Linked DNA regions of Homo sapiens: region 2 is linked to region 1. A link means that fine-mapping ties the variant in region 1 to the expression of a gene that starts in the linked region. Tissue or cell type: whole blood. Region 1 holds a variant in brackets; the other region holds the start of a gene. All regions are shown on one strand. Distances are from middle to middle.

Region 1 (8,103 bases):
ATCTTTTCTTCTGCAAGGAGGGAGGCAGGCAGGAAGAATCCTGAACATCAGGAAAACATTCCACCTGATCTTTAAAGGGACCCCAATGCCTAGATGTCTTTTTCTTTTTTCTTTTTTTTTTTTTTTGTAAATCCAAACTCTTACGTGTAATATCAAGGCTGACTGACAAGACTCAGTCCTATCACCCACCATAATCATCAGCAGCTTTCCATGTAGGGTCTCCCTACAATTTAGTCACATGGGACCATCTACCATCTTACATTATCACTGTACACCCTATGCTCATTTGCTCTCCAAACTTGAAGTTATCTTCTCTCCCTCCTCATTTGTGAAAGTCTTGAAATCAAGGTCCACATAAATTGTCTTACCACCTTTTCTGTGACTGCTTTTTAGAATCTTTCTCCCAGTAGTATTCAGAACTAATACATCATCTGTACTTGTAACAGTAGAGTCTGATCTATACTGTAGTTCAGTGGTCCCCAAACCTTTTGGCACCAGGGACAGGTTTCGTGGAAAACAATTTTTCCACAGATAGCAGGAGGGGTGAGAGGGAGGAGATGGTTTCGGGATGAAACTCTTCCACCTCCGATCATCAGTCATTAGATTCTCACAGGAGCATGCAACCTAGATCCATCGCATGTGCAGTTCACAATAGGGTTTGCGCTCCTATGATAATCTAAAACCACTGCTGATCTGACAGAAGGCAGAACTCAGGCACACTTATCGCAAAGTTAATGTAATGCTGTTCACCTGCTGCTCACCTCCTGCCGTGCAGCCCAGTTCCTAACTGGCCATGGACTGGTACCAATCTACAGACCGAGGGTTGGGGACCCCCCACTGTAGTTAGTTGTATATACCAGCTCCTGTAAACTGCTGGGTCCCAGAAGAGAGGACCACATCAAAGTGATGTGCACACCTTCTCTGTTCCTAGTAGACTACAGAGGAGACAGGCCAAAATGATAAAAACCAACAAAACAAGGGGCTAAAAACACATTTCTAAAATGACACGATGAAAGTTATTAGAAATTGAATCTAATTTGAAATTAATCAGAAGTTCCAAAATTACAAAAACTCTTCACAACTAGAAAAAGAATAAACAGATTCAAGGCTGAAAGGTTATCACCAATTACAAATATTCACCTTGGCTAGGTGTGGTGGCTCATGCTTGTAATCCCAGCACTCAGCACTTTGGGAGGCTGAGGTGGGTGGATTATGAGGTCAAGAGATTGAGACCATCCTGGCCAACAAGGTGAAACCCCTCTCTACTAAAAATACAAAAATTAGCCGGGCGTGGTGGTGTGCACCTGTAGTCCCAGCTACTCGAGAGGCTGAGGCAGGAGAATCACTTGAACCTGGGAGGTGGAGGTTGCAGTGAGCCAAGATCGTGTCACTGCACTCCAGCCTGGGTGACAGAGTGAGACTCTGTCTCAAAAAAATAAAAATAAAAAAGAATATTCACCTATTTTCTTCCACTTTCTAAACACAGTTTGTACAAGAGCAAGCATGTTGTCTGGAATTATAGAAAGAAAGCCAGTAAGGAGTAACCGTACGAACCAGCTCTCCATGCTGGTCATCTTATCATTATTAGGCATAGCAATAAAAATAGCTCTCTCTGCTTTTAGAAAAGCATGACATGATGCAATGTGGCAAAAACAAATATTCAAGATGGTCGACCAGTTACTGGCCTGGCATGGTGACTCACACCTGTAATCCCAGAACTCTGGGAGGCCAAAGCAGGAAGACCACTTGAGCCCAGGAATTCAAGACTAGCCTGGGCAAGATGGCAAGACACCATCTCTACAAAAAAAAATGTTTTTAATTAGCTGGGCATGGTGGTGTGTGCCTGTAGTGCCAGCCTCTCAGGAGGCTGAGGCAGTAGGATTCCTTGAGCCCAGGAGCTTGAGGATGCAGTGAGCTATGATTACAACACTGTACTCCAGTCTGGGCGAGAAAGTGAGACCACATCTCTGAGGGACAGAGAGAGAAAGAGAGAAAGATATCAGCCACTACCATCATGTTAATATGATCATATAAATATTAAAACTTTATAATTATTAAAATATTAAATCTCTATAGTTATCAGCTCATATATCTGTCAGAAAGTAATAAGCATATCATGTAACTTTAGGATGACTTAGTGCTGAGGAGATTGGAAGAAAGGAAGAATATTCATACTTGATCAGCTCTTAGCTTTTGAGAACTATTTTATTAAAGAAAAAACTCTCTTTTGGCTGGGCATGGTGGTTCATGCCTATAATCCCAACATTCTGGAAGGCTGAGGCAGGAAAACTGCTTGAGCCCAAGAGTACAAGACCAGCCTGGGCAACACAGTTGAGACTGCGTCTCCACAGAAAACATTTTAAAATTAGCCTGCACACCTGTGGTCCCAGCTCTTGGGAGGCTGAGGTGGACGGATCACTTCAGCAGAGGAAGTTCAAGGCTGCAGTGAGCCGTGATAGCACCACTGCACTCCAGCCTGGGCTACAGAGTGAGGCCCTGTCTTGAAAATAATAGATAACAAAAGAAAAACTTCTCCCATTAAGCAAAGTGAAGTTTCACTCTATTTTATATCAGTGAAAATAAAGAAAAGTGGAAGGTAGAAGAGGACATAGGAATTTGTGCTGCCAATTCTATAATTTTTGTTTTGTTTTGTTTTTTGTGGGGTTTTTGAGACGGAGATTTTTGTATTTTTAGTAGAGACAGGGTTTCACCATGTTAGTCAGGCTGGTCTTGAACTCCTGACCTCAAGTGATTCGCCTGCCTCAGCCTCCCAAAGTGTTGGGATTACAGGTGTGAGCCACCATGCCCACCCTTGTAATTGTTTATTTACAATGTGTGTCCCACCCAGAGTTCCCCTTAACGCTTGAGTTCCTCGATGGCTAGGATAGCATCTTTCTCACCTTTTATCCTGGACATCTAAATATAATAAACTTGAAACCTCACAGGCTCTCATTAAATGCACATTTGTCCTGCTAGGTGCGCTCTGCTCCATACCATACCAGCCTTCTCTTGCTGGGGTTGATGTTTGCACAGCTGGAAGCACCCTCATAGTTCTTCTAAGTATTGGTTCTAGGCACGACTAAGGGTAGAGTAGCTCAGCTTTTCTGAGCAAGAAGGAGAAGATACAAACTCTATGGGAGTACTTAACAAGCATTTTGTAGTCGTGGCAAAGGCCTTACTTTGACCTAATATCTTACAGATGCTTTCAAAAAGGAGGGGGGGAATATCATTATTAAATGAAAATTGAACAGCAAAAGTTGAAGAGATCTTTCAAGTTATTAGTAACATAACTTTTAATATTTTACCTGAAATACAAGTAAAAATCTGAATTAAAAGTATTAAAAAAACAAAAAAAACACGCTGGATCAGAATTGTTCAGGGACAGGGTTAAGCAATATGAGTATTATTTGTTGTTGTTGTTTTGTTTTTTTTAGAGACAAGTCACACTATGTTGCCCAGGCTGGAGTGCATTGGCTAGTCACAGGTGTGCTCATTGTACACTACAGCTTCAA[G/T]CTCCTGGGCTCAAGCGATCCTCCAGCCTCAACCTCCCAGGTAGCTGAGACTAGAAGCATGTGCTACTGCACCAAAAATCTCAGTGTTGTTGGTTTTCTTGCAGTAAGGGTAATCATGACACAGAGAAATCTCATTAAAGTTGAGTCCGAGAGGCACCCACAATTGAGGGTCACTGAATTAATCAACAATCTACCTAATCCATTCAAGATAAAATTCACTGAAATGAAATGCAACACAGGATTAATACAACTTAACAATAGAAAGACATCACACTCCCCCTTGTTAGGAAGGTGTTTTAGAATCAGTTTACTAGATGTAGAATCTGAGGCACGGATTTTTGTACAAGTGATTTACTAAGGGAGTGCTTTTAGGAAAAACCTATAAGGTTTTATTTTATTTTAAGGTTTTATGATATTTTAAAGGTATCAACTATCCCCAAACTAATCTATAGTTTTTGTTTGTTTTTGTTTTTTTTTTTAGACAGAGTCTCACTCTGTTGCCCAGGCTGGAGTGCAGTGGCACATGATCTTGGCTCACTGCAACCTCCGCCTCCCAGGTTCAAGCAATTCTCCTGCCTCAGCCTCCTGAATAGCTGGGACCACAGGCGTGCGCCACCACATCCGGCTAATTTTTGTATTTTTAGTAGAGACAGGGTTTCACCATGTTGGCCAGGCTGTTCTCAAACTCCTGACCTTGTGATCCACCTGTCTTGGCCTCCTAAAGTGTTGGGATTACAGGCGTGAGACACCACGCCCGGCCTAATCTATAGATTTAACATAACCCCAAGCAAAGTCCAGTAGGTTTTTTCTTTTCAAATCAAACTGAAAAGTTGATCCTAAGTTTTACATAGTAATTTAAAAAGTCAAGAACAGCTAAGATAATCTTTGAGAACAAACTTAGAGGAACTTAAACTACTGGATATCAAAACTTACTGATGGATTGAACCATGTGAAAATGCTGAAAACTGATGAGTTTCTAACCTATGGCAATGTCATATGTTTGAAACTAAAAATACATAAATATAGTAATGAAAACATTGTGGTACCTGCACAATCACCAAGAAAGAGGCCAATGTACTTGGTGTGCTGAACATATGGAAAAACAAAACAAAACAAAACAAGAGGCCAATGCAAAAAAATGGTTTTGAAACGGAACCACATGCATATGGATACTTAATATCTGACAAATGTGACACTGCAAAATAGTGGGGGAATTAACTGTCTTTTCAATAAGTGGTGCTGGGTCAACTGGATATTTTGAGCTCTACCTCACAGTATATACAAAAAGTAATTCCAGGTGGATGGCAGCCCTAAATGTGAACGGTAAACAATAACATGGCGAATATTTTCATGATCACAGAGGCAGATGAAGAAAACGAACAGACAATGGAGAGAGTAGAGAGACAGGGACAAAAGAAGGAAAAAAGAAAAGCAAAAAGAAGATGATGAGGTGGGAGGATCATTTGAGCCCAGGAATTTGAATACAGCCTCGGCAAGGTGGCAAGAAGGGAGGGAGGGAAATTCCCCTCAGCAGTACTTACCAACTTACAAGAAACAGATGGGCTTATTTCTAATTGTAACACTAAATGATTTTTTTTAAAAAATGAAGTGATGCCTTTAAAACTGAGAAAAACTATTTTGAAGCTAGATTTTTACAGCCAACTCATCCATTAAGTGAAGGCTAAAATGGGAAATTCAAACACACAATTTAAAAAAAATTATTGGCTGGGCGTGGTGGCTCATGCCTGTAATCCCAGCACTTTGCGAGGCTGAGGCGAGCGGATCACAAGGTCAAGAGATGGAGACCATCCTAGCCAACATGGTGAAACCCCGTCTCTACGAAAAACACAACAAAATTAGCTGTGCGTGGTGGCATGCGCCTATAGTCCCAGCTACTCAGGGGGCTGAGGCAGAAGAATCACTTGAACCCGGGAGGCAGAGGTTGCAGTGAGCCAAGATTGCGCCACGGCACTCCAGCCTGGGCAACAGAGTGACACTCCATCTCAGGGGGGAAAAAAAAAAATTTATTTTCCAGGCATTCTTTCTGAAAATGAACTTCAGCACAGACTCCAGGAAATGAAAAATGAACACAGCATCCTATTAAAGCTGCAATATCCAAAAAATAGTACCATTAGCCTACAAGAGAAATGAAATGCAATCCTAGGATGACGATAATGCACTAGGATCTAGAAACAACTCTGTCCAAAATTAACCTTTCCATAGTGTAATTTAAAAAGACCAATGACTTAGACATGTGGTGCAAATGGTATATGAAAAAAGGTGCAATTAAAAACAGGGGAGGGGAGCAGTTTACTGAAAGAGAACTACACAAGAAAGTACTAATCCAAACATAAGGCAAACTGAACTATGGCATTATTCTGAGATAATTATATATTTTAAGGAGACAAGGCTTAGAATTAGAACACTCTCATCAAACTTACCAACATAAGATGGATCCATAAAGAAGGATATTTTGTATTTACATACAAATGAACATGTACAATATAATGTATCAAGAAAGAACAAAAAAGGAGAAAAGAGAAGGAGGCTTCGGAAAGATGGAGATGACTCCAAAACAGCAGCTGAAATCAACTGAAAGACTTTTGCTGACTCTCTGAGTTTACTCTTAAGTGGGCAGAAGTCAAAGAGAACTTTGCCTGCTCACTGGAATGTGTTTCTCTATTGGTCTCTAAGTCTGCATGTGCTGACCTTTAAAAGACAGTATAAGGTTTGTCTGTTTTCCCTTCTGCTAGCAGGCTGCTAGACTGAACATGGTAGACAATGACTTTCCCTCTGAAGTTGGCTGTGTTCAATATTCTATTGTTTTTCTTATACAAGCACTGGGAGATTTTTGCAATTGATGTATTTTTAATCATTTAAAACTAAGCAAGCCATGACAATATAAAAGACAAACTTACACCACAAATGAAACTACTAACAAAAATAACAAATATACTCATCTGGGGATGGCAGGGGTTGGGGGGAGACCCTCTCCTAAACATAGCAAGCACCAAAGGGCTGCTTTGACTTGCAATACTAAACTCCTTCCAAGAAATTTGGAAGTAAATTCAGAGTAACCAAAGATACAAAAAGCAATATGCAACAGGAGAAAGTATTTGGGTGTGAATAAAGAATCAAAAAATGGGCCAGGTGCAGTGGCTCACGCCAGTAATCCCAGCACTTGGGGAGGCCGAGGCAGGTGGATCATGAGGTCAAGAGATCGAGACCATCCAGGCCAACATGGTGAAATCCTGTCTCTACTAAAAATACAAAAATTAGCTGGGCGTGGTGGAGCGTGCCTGTAGTCCCAGCTACTCGGGAGGCTGAGGCAGGAGAATCGCTTGAACCTGGGAGGCAGAGGTTGCAGTGAGCTGAGATCACACCACTGCACTCCAGCCTGGGCAACAGAGTTTGACTCTGTCTTTAAAAAAAATAATAAATAAAAAAATTTTAAAAATGTACAAAATGAAAGGGACCGTGGCAAAGATGGGGATTCTGTTTCTTCTCCCTGGGTGCTCAGAAAGACATTTCCTATTTCCCTTGGAGTTAGAAGTTGAGACCATGTGAGTGGGTTCTAGACAGTGCAATGTGAGCTGAAGAATTATGCTTCACTACAAAGCACTTGATGAAATTCTGCTTGCTGGTGCTCTTTGCTATCAACCAACTAAATACAAAGAATCCAGCAGGAGACTCCAAGACACCAGATGGAAGGAGTTGAAATTCCTCAATTACATGACAGCCACAGGCTAAACACTCACACTATGACGTGAGCAAGAAATAAACCATTATTGTGTTAAGTCACTGAAATGCTAGTTATGTTAAAGAGTTAGCATCAACTATCCTAATTAATACAGAGATCTTACATATCTAACATCCTCATTTTACAAATAAGGAAACTGATGAACAATGAGCTTTCCAAAAATTATACTAGTTGGTAGGAGAAACAGGTCTCCTGACTTTCTATTCAGGGACTTTTACAAAGTAAAAGATTTCTGTGCTACATTTATAAGTAAAAGTTATTATCACAATATTTGTTCCAAAACCAAAAAAAGGCAGTGCAATCATTTCTTTTTCTTTTTTTTTTTGAAGCAGGGTCTCACTCTGGTGTCCAGGCTCGAGTGCAGTGGCATGACCATGACTTACTGCAGCCTCGACCTCCCAGTCACCTCTGTTTGCAAAAAGAAAAGAATTCTCCACGAAGTTCTTTTTCAGTCTACCATTTTATGATTTGACTCTCTTCATGTCGACAAAATTTCTTGAGTATCTATTAGAACTGTATAAGATTGTGGATATCTGAACATTTATTTACTGACAAAATGTGATTTCATATGGCTTGACTTAATAGTAAATGACAAGCACTGCATTTTTAGAAAGCGCTAATTTTATTAGGTATACATACCTACACACTTTTTTTTTTTTTTTTTTGAGACAGAGTCTCTGTCATGCAGGCTAGAGTGCAATGGTGCGATCTCGGCTCACTGCCACCTCTGCCTCCTGGGTTCAAGTAATTCTCATGCCTCAGCCTCCCAAGTAGCGGGCAGTACAGGCGTGCATCACCATGCCCAGCTAATTTTTGTATTATTAGTAGAGA
Region 2 (8,103 bases), 990 kb after region 1:
CCATATGGCTCAAGCTTCCTTTGGAGAACCTTCTCTGGCCACTCTAATAGGGGGTGGGCCTCTTTCTTCTTAGGGCCAAATTAGGGCTTAAACTGAGAAAAGGAACTGCTCTGGGTCTTCCTGTAAGGCCTGATGTGACAGAAACCAGGTTCATCTGACCCAAAAGTCCAGGTGGGGGACAAGTGTACAAGGCCCCTCAGTGCCTGAGGTCAGGGGCTGCTGCTGCCTTTGGGGTAGGTAGGGAAGTGCAGCCTGCCACTGTTGCCTCCCAATATGGGCTTGGTGGGCATTGATGGTGGGTGCCCTGTGCAGGAGTGCTGAGTCTGCAGGAGTTCTCCAACATGGACCTTCGGGACTTCCACAAGTACATGAGGAGCCACAAGGCAGAGTCCAGTGAGCTGGTGCGGAACAGCCACCATACCTGGCTCTACCAGGGTGAGGGTGCCCACCACATCATGCGTGCCATCCGCCAGAGGTGAGCACCTGAAGCTGTTCTCACTGGAGCAGGGGGAGAAGACTGGGCAGGGCCTCCACAGAAGTCCTTGTCTGGGGCCAAGAGGACAGAATGGATTAACCCATTTGGGATTAAGTTCCATTTGTTAGACCAGGATTGGGACCCACTGAAAGACAGGCAATTAACAAAGGCAAATTAGCCCTCCTTGCAGGCACACAATGGGCAACTGGGGTTAGATAGAGATTGAGCACTTCTTTCTGATTAGATAAATGACCTCTTATCTTTGACCCCTTATCTGACCCCGTCACAGCAGGAAAAGGGTTTTTAAATAAACAACTTTCTTCCAGGGAGGAGGACCTCAGGACTCCCCGCCCCCTTTATTTAGTGGAAATGTCAACATTTCCACATAGCAGGTGTCTCTGTCTTTGGCATCTGAGGGAGAAGGATCATCATGAGTAACCCCCTCCTGCTCTTACAGGGCCAGTCTGAGATGGCTTAAGGGACTTCCAGGGGAGGTGGGTAGGGGCAAAGCTTGTGGCAGGCCTAGGGTCCACCTTGGCCAGCTCCTTCAGATCACCACCTTGCCTGGGGCTGCCCAGCCAAATGCCTGCTGCCCACCAGGGTGCTGCGCCTCACTCGCCTGTCGCCTGAGATCGTGGAGCTCAGCGAGCCGCTGCAGGTTGTTCGATATGGTGAGGGGGGCCACTACCATGCCCACGTGGACAGTGGGCCTGTGTACCCAGAGACCATCTGCTCCCATACCAAGCTGGTAGCCAACGAGTCTGTACCCTTCGAGACCTCCTGCCGGCAAGTATCTCCCAACTGGGGGCTGCCTTCAATCCTCAGACCAGGAACACCCATGACACAGGCACAGCCCTGCACTGTGGGCGTGCCCCTTGGCATGGGGCCAGGAGATCACTGGGTTATCCCGGTTAGTGATGCCCTCACCTCTCCCCACAAGTTGTTTACCCAATGGCTGGAAAGGGGTGGCTACTGGTCATCGTGACCACTGGAGTCAACACAGACTGATGTACCCACAGACACCAAAACTTGCCCCCTGAGTTCTGAAGCAAGGGGCAAGGCTGGGCCCCTAGCTTGTCCTGCCCATTCCTCCAGGTGTTGATCTTGATTCCACTTAGAGAAGCTGAAGCTGTGCCTCCCTCCCCTGTCAAGCCAGTTCTTTCCTCTTCAGGTGGCTGTTCTGGCCCAGCCCCTTCCCATCCCCAAGGAGCCCTTCAGCGCGCCCTGTTGCTTCTGCTAGCCTACCTTTCCCTGCCAGGCCCTTGCTCAGGGCCATGGCATTTAACTAAGTGCACCTGTGATCTTGGCCAAAAAACCATTGCAACTCACAGTAAGAGACTGGGTTTCGGGGAAGGAGGGGCTAGGGACATTTTGGCACTGGCCTGCCCTATTGTCTCCCATCCTAGTCTGTCCTGGTCCCTGGCAACAGGAACCTGGGCAGCTTATCCTGCCCACAGGTAAGCCCCTGGGAGCATCCACAACTGGGGACCTGCTCAGTGCCCCCCCTGCCTTACAGCTACATGACAGTGCTGTTTTATTTGAACAACGTCACTGGTGGGGGCGAGACTGTTTTCCCTGTAGCAGATAACAGAACCTACGATGAAATGGTAAGGGTCAACTGGGCTATTACTCTTGTGGGCTGGCAGGGGCTTAGACAAGTGAAGTACACACCTCTCCAGGTCTAAGGATGTGGGCCCAAATTATTCCTTGGGCATATCTGGTTGGTTTCCCTTTGGTCACCCTTGGCTGGCCTGGCCATAGAGTGGGGACAGGTTGAACACCCCACCACCCTGCTGCCCACAGAGTCTGATTCAGGATGACGTGGACCTCCGTGACACACGGAGGCACTGTGACAAGGGAAACCTGCGTGTCAAGCCCCAACAGGGCACAGCAGTCTTCTGGTACAACTACCTGCCTGATGGGCAAGGTGAGGGCCTATGGCCAGGCCTGGGGGGGGTGCCCTGAGTACAGCTTCCCTTTACCCAGCCCCCGTCTGCCACAATGGAGGGCTGTTTCTGGCTGCTTTCCAAATAGTTTTCTGCTCCTGGTGCCTCCCAAAGGCCATCCTTAGTGACTTTAGCAGACTGCCCCAGGACCTGTACTGCTTATTGGGTTATATCCATCCCTATCATTCCCTGATGCCCCAGCCTTCCTACTCCCTGGGGCTTGGGACACATGTCCCTTGCTAACCCAGGATGGGAAGGGATATGGACAGGCCCAACAGCAAGAAAGCTGGTTTCAGAGGGCCAGTAGTGTTGACTATACATTAGTGGGCTGAGATGAGGAGCCTCCAAGGAAGCTTTAGGTCTGGGTGTTTGCTACACAAGGAATGCATAGCTGGACCCACCTTGGTCATGCTCTTGGTGCCTATGAGGCCAAGCTCTGGCCAGCCCAGCCTAGGATCTCACGTCACCCTCCTCTTCTAGGTTGGGTGGGTGACGTAGACGACTACTCGCTGCACGGGGGCTGCCTGGTCACGCGCGGCACCAAGTGGATTGCCAACAACTGGATTAATGTGGACCCCAGCCGAGCGCGGCAAGCGCTGTTCCAACAGGAGATGGCCCGCCTTGCCCGAGAAGGGGGCACCGACTCACAGCCCGAGTGGGCTCTGGACCGGGCCTACCGCGATGCGCGCGTGGAACTCTGAGGGAAGAGTTAGCCCCGGTTCCCAGCCGCGGGTCGCCAGTTGCCCAAGATCAGGGGTCCGGCTGTCCTTCTGTCCTGCTGCAGACTAAAGGTCTGGCCAATGTCTTGCCCCACCCCGCCAGCCGCGATACGGCGCAGTTCCTATATTCATGTTATTTATTGTGTACTGACTCCATCTGCCCCGTCAAATAAAAAACCACAAGGTTCGAGCCGCCGGGCCCGACAAACTCCGGGTCGGCGAAACAGAGTCCGCGATAGGTGCAGCGGGCTGGCAGCTGGGAGCGCCCCGCAAGCGTCACGTGAGGGGGCGAGGGGCGGGATGCCCCTCCGCGGGCCCCGCCAATGATGAGCTGGATTGCGTGGGACGAAGGGTCGTCATTGGACAACCGCCGCGGGCGCCCTGGTCTCTGCTACCTGTAGCTGAGGGCGCTGTTGATGGGCAGCGCGGCGCGCTGGGAAGGCTCGTTCTCGCGAGAGTTCAGCTCCCTTCTTAGCCGTGGCTGCCTCAGCACCTCGAGGATCGACATGGACGCTCTCGAGGACTACGTTTGGCCGCGGGCAACCTCGGAGCTTATACTCCTCCCAGTGACGGGTCTGGAGTGCGTGGGGGACCGGCTGTTGGCGGGTGAGGCTTGGCTTGAGGCACGCCTGGTGGAAAGGGGGAAAGAAACAGCGCCTCCCAGGGGCGGTGCCACAGGGACAAAAGGGGTGCCCTGAGGAGAAGGACGGGCAGCAGGTTGAGGCCGATCGGAGGTGGGAAGGGAGCCCCGGAGATGGCGGGGACGAGGGCCAACCTGAAGAGGGCGGGGCCCGAGAGACAAAGCTGATGTGGCCGCCGCGGCGCTTCATAAACTTCAGCCCGCGTGGAAAGGGCGGGTGGAACCGCGGGAGGGTGCAGGGGAACGCGGCCGCGCGGAGGCGGAGGCGGAGGCCCGGGAGCTGAGGGTTGAGGGGGTGTGCTCCCTTCTAGGAGATGGGCGGGGGCTTGGCCTCTCCGAAGGAGACGGGGCCGAGCTGGGGGGGGCGGAGGGAGGAGGAGGAGGAGGAGGCGGAGGCGGCCCCGGCCCCTCAGGGGGTGTGGCCTCTTGGGGAAGGCGGGGCCGGGAGAGGGCAAGGGTGTGGCCTCTCGAGGGCGGGATGAGTCTCTTCCCCCTAAGGTGGGGGTGAAGATCCTCTGAGGAGGGTGGCGTCGCGGAAAACGGCGGATAAGACCTTTCCGAGTAGGGGGCGGTGCCCGGGGAAGCAGGGGCTGAGACCCCCTCCTGAGATGGTTGAGGTCCAGGAAATCAGGTGTGGAGGTCCCTCCAAGGAGAACCGGGTCGCAAAGGACAGGCGAGGCCTGGGACCTGAGGTGTCAGAGTCCAGGCTGGTCTCGAACAGTCATTACATGAAGCCACTAATGACCCATGTTGGTGCTGCTGAGTTGTATAAGGGTCCTGAGGCAGGGCCTTGGCGGTCAGGCCTTGAGTGAGTTGCCACCAGTCCTAAGAGGGTGTGTGTATGGGGTGGGGATGATCCAGTTTTGATCTGGTGTGGGGGTTCTTGGAGCGCGGAGTTCCTACCGCGAGCTAAACTCCTAAGGCTCCTTGAGGGGGAACAACGAAGCAGAAACTCAAAGAACCACAAGAGTGAACTAGGAAAAGGGGTGAGTTCCTGGCAAGAGGGTAAGCATGCCAAAGGCCTTGAGGCTGGAAGAATCTGTCATTTTGGGGGAAGGAGGGAATTCTTGTGAAGTTAGAGCAGGAATGGAGTCTGGGAGGAAAGGAAGCTGGACAAGCGAGCAGAGGCCACATTGTTTCAGGCCTTGATCTGACTTTATCCCTAAGGGCAGTGGGGAGAACCTATTGAAGGGTTTTAAGGTGGGGAATAACTTGGGAAATGCAGTTTAAGAAGCTCTGCAAGTGAATTCACCTACTTCTGTGGCTTCCAAAGTGACTTTTATATAGCTACAATTCTGTGTGTGTGTGTTTTTTGTTTGTTTGTTTGTTTGTTTTTGAGACAGTCTTCCTCTGTCACCCAGGCTGGAGTGCAGTGGCACGGTCTCGGCTCCCTGCAACCTCCGCCTCCCAGGTTCAAGTGATTCTCCTGCCTCAGCCTCCGGAGTAGCTGGGATTACAGGTGCCCACCACCATGCCCAGCTAATTGTTGTATTTTTAGTAGAGATGGGGCCTCACCATGTTGGCCAGGCTGGTCTCAAACTCCTGACCTCAAGTGATTCGCCTGCCTCAGCCCCCCAAATTGCTGGAATTATAGGCATGAGCCACCATACCCGGCCTCTCTAGCCTCTTCCTGAGCTCTTCATTTCCTGTTCCATCCACCATACTCAATGCTCTTGCCCATCTCAGGGCAATCATACATGCTGTTTTCTCCACCAAGAAAGCTGCAAACCCTCCCATTGCTCCCCACCCCCCCCCCCCCGCCCCAACATTTCCCAGTCCCCCTCTTCCGCCTCCTTTCCTCTGGCTAACTGCTGCTTATCCTTGAATCCTAACTCTAAATATTGTGTCCTCAAGTTGGCCTCCCCTTACACTCACCCAGTCTTGTTAGATTAGACCAGGGTTTTCTCAATCTTGCCTCGATTGACCTTTTAGACCAGATAATTCTTTGTTGGAATGCTGTTTGTGCATTGTAGGATGTTTAGCATCATCCCTGGCCTTACTTGCCAGTAGCACAACCCCTGGAGACAGCCGTACGTGTCTCCAGCTATTGCTAGATGTCTCCTGTGGGGAAAGTTGCCCCCTGTGGAGAACCACTGGATTAGACTTTCTCATTTTACATCTTTTATTTTCTTTTTGCATTGTCAAAATCCTTCTCATTTTATTTTACTTTTTTTTTTTTTGAGACAGAGTCTTGCTCTATTGCTCAGGGTGGAGTGCAGTGGTGCAATCTCAGGTCACTGCAACTTCCACCTCTTGGGCTCAAGAGATCCTCTCACCTCAGCCTCCCAAGTAGCTGGGACTACAGGCATGCGCCATTATGCCCAGCTCATTTGTATAATTTTTTTAGAGGTGGAGTTTTGCCCTGTTGCCCAGGCTGGTCTCAAACTCCTGGGCTTAAGCGAGCCTCCTGCCTTCCAAAGTGCTGGGATTATCGGTGTGAGCCACTGTGCCAGGCCCCATCTCTATTTTTTTTTTAATTAAAAAAAAAAAGTGAGGTGAGGAGGAGGCTCTGAGTTTGAGAAATTTGTGGTTGAAGTGAACATCAAGCGTGACTGATGAGGCTGGGCGCGGTGGCTCACGCCTGTATTCCCAGCACTTTGGGAGGCCGAGGTGGGCGGATCATGAGGTCAGGAGATCGAGACCATCCTGGCTAACACAGTGAAACCCCGTCTCTACTAAAAATACAAAAAATTAGCCGGGCATGGTGGCGGATGCCTGTAGTCCCAGCTACTTGGGAGGCTGAGGCAGGAGGATGGCGTAAACCTGGGAGGCAGAGCTTGTAGTGAGCCAAGATCGCGCCACAGCACTCCAGCTTGGGCGGCAGAGTGAGACTTTGTCTCAAAAAAAAAAAAGAGTGACTGATGAGGGGGCCGGGCACAATGGCTCACGCCTGTAATCCCGGCACTTTGGGAGGCCAAGGTGGGTGGATCACCGCAGGTCAGGAGTTCGAGACCAGCGTGGCCAACATGGTGAAACCCTGTCTCTACTAAAAATATAAAAACTGGTCGGGCTTGGTGGCTCACGCCTATAATCCCAGCACTTTGGGAGGCTGAGGCGGGCAGATCACGAGGTCAGGAGATCGAGATCATCCTGGCTAACACGGTGAAACCCTGTCTCTATTAAAAATACAAAAAATTAGCCGGGCATGGGGGCAGGCCCCTGTAGTCCCAGCTACTCGGGAGGCTGAGGCAGGAGAATGGCCTGAACCCGGGAGGTGGAACTTGCAGTGAGCTGAGATCGTGCCACTGCACTCCAGCCTGGGCTACAGAGCAAGACTCCGTCTCAAAAAAAAAAAAAAAAAACTAGCCAGGTGTGGTGGTGGGCGCCTGTAATTCCAGCTACTTGGGAGGCTGAGGCAGGAGAGTTGCTTGAACCCAGGAGATGGAGGTTGCAGTGAGCTGCACGGTGCCACTGCACTCCAGCCTCAGCGACAGAATGAGACTCTGTCTCAAAAAAAAAAAGAATGACTGATGAGGGAAGCACAAAGTCAGCACTGAAAGTCCAGCTGAAGCTGAGACCAAGGATTTTCTTTTTTCTTTTTTTTTTTTTGAGTCTTTCGCCCAGGCTGGAGTGAAGTGGTATGATCTTGGCTCACTGCAACCTCCACCCGCTGGGTTCAAGCGATTCTCCTGCCTCAGCCTCCTGAGTAGCTGGGATTACAGGCACGTGCCACCACACCTGGCTAATTTTTTAGTAGAGATGGGGTTTTCACCTTGTTGGCCAGGCTAGTCCTGAACCCCTGACCTCAGGTGATTCATCCGCCTGGGCTTCCCAAAGTGCTAGGATTACAGGCGTGAGCCACCGTGCCTGGCCGAGACCAAGGATTTTCTTTTTTTTTTTTTTCTTTTGAGACAGAGTCTGGCTTTGGCTTTCCAAAGTGCCCAGATTACAGGCGTGAGCCACCGCACCCGGCCGAGACCAAGGATTTTCTAAGATTCAAGCTGCAGGATTGTGTGTCCTGATGCATTCATAGGCTACATGCCGAGAAGTTTCCCTGATCCCCATCTCTTCCCTGTGGGTCATCAGAGTTAGGTACCTAGCTCTGACATGGCTCTTTGCCTCTATCTAGGTGAGGGTCCCGATGTCCTGGTGTACAGCTTGGACTTTGGTGGGCATCTGCGGATGATAAAGCGAGTGCAGAACCTGCTTGGCCACTATCTTATCCATGGCTTCCGGGTACGGCCAGAGCCTAATGGAGACCTTGACTTGGAGGCCATGGTGGCTGTGTTTGGAAGCAAGGGACTCCGAGTTGTGAAAATTAGCTGGGGACAGGGCCACTTCTGGGAGCTTTGGCGCTCTGGCCTGTGGAACATGTCTGACTGG

The links. PIP is the estimated chance that this variant, and not a neighbour inherited with it, causes the effect.
Region 2: WDR6 starts here. The variant in region 1 is fine-mapped to the expression of WDR6 in whole blood (INTERVAL, PIP above 0.99).

Annotation. Positions count from the first base shown.
Region 1 is chr3:48,017,374-48,025,476 of GRCh38, forward strand. It overlaps a transcript of MAP4 not described here. Among named protein-coding and RNA genes, the nearest start is that of MAP4, 5.0 kb to the left of the region's middle. The variant G/T (reference allele first, on the strand shown) is at 3,513.
Region 2 is chr3:49,003,786-49,011,888 of GRCh38, forward strand. It overlaps WDR6 (WD repeat domain 6), which reads left to right and starts at 3,606. Exons shown (of 6, transcript NM_018031.6): 1 at 3,606-3,746; 2 at 7,850-8,103. The coding sequence starts at 3,647. It overlaps P4HTM (prolyl 4-hydroxylase, transmembrane), which reads left to right. Exons shown (of 9, transcript NM_177939.3): 5 at 313-475; 6 at 1,076-1,261; 7 at 1,992-2,082; 8 at 2,279-2,402; 9 at 2,902-3,368. The coding sequence ends at 3,122. RefSeq lists an enhancer at 2,384-3,372 and silencers at 3,511-3,560, 4,101-4,280.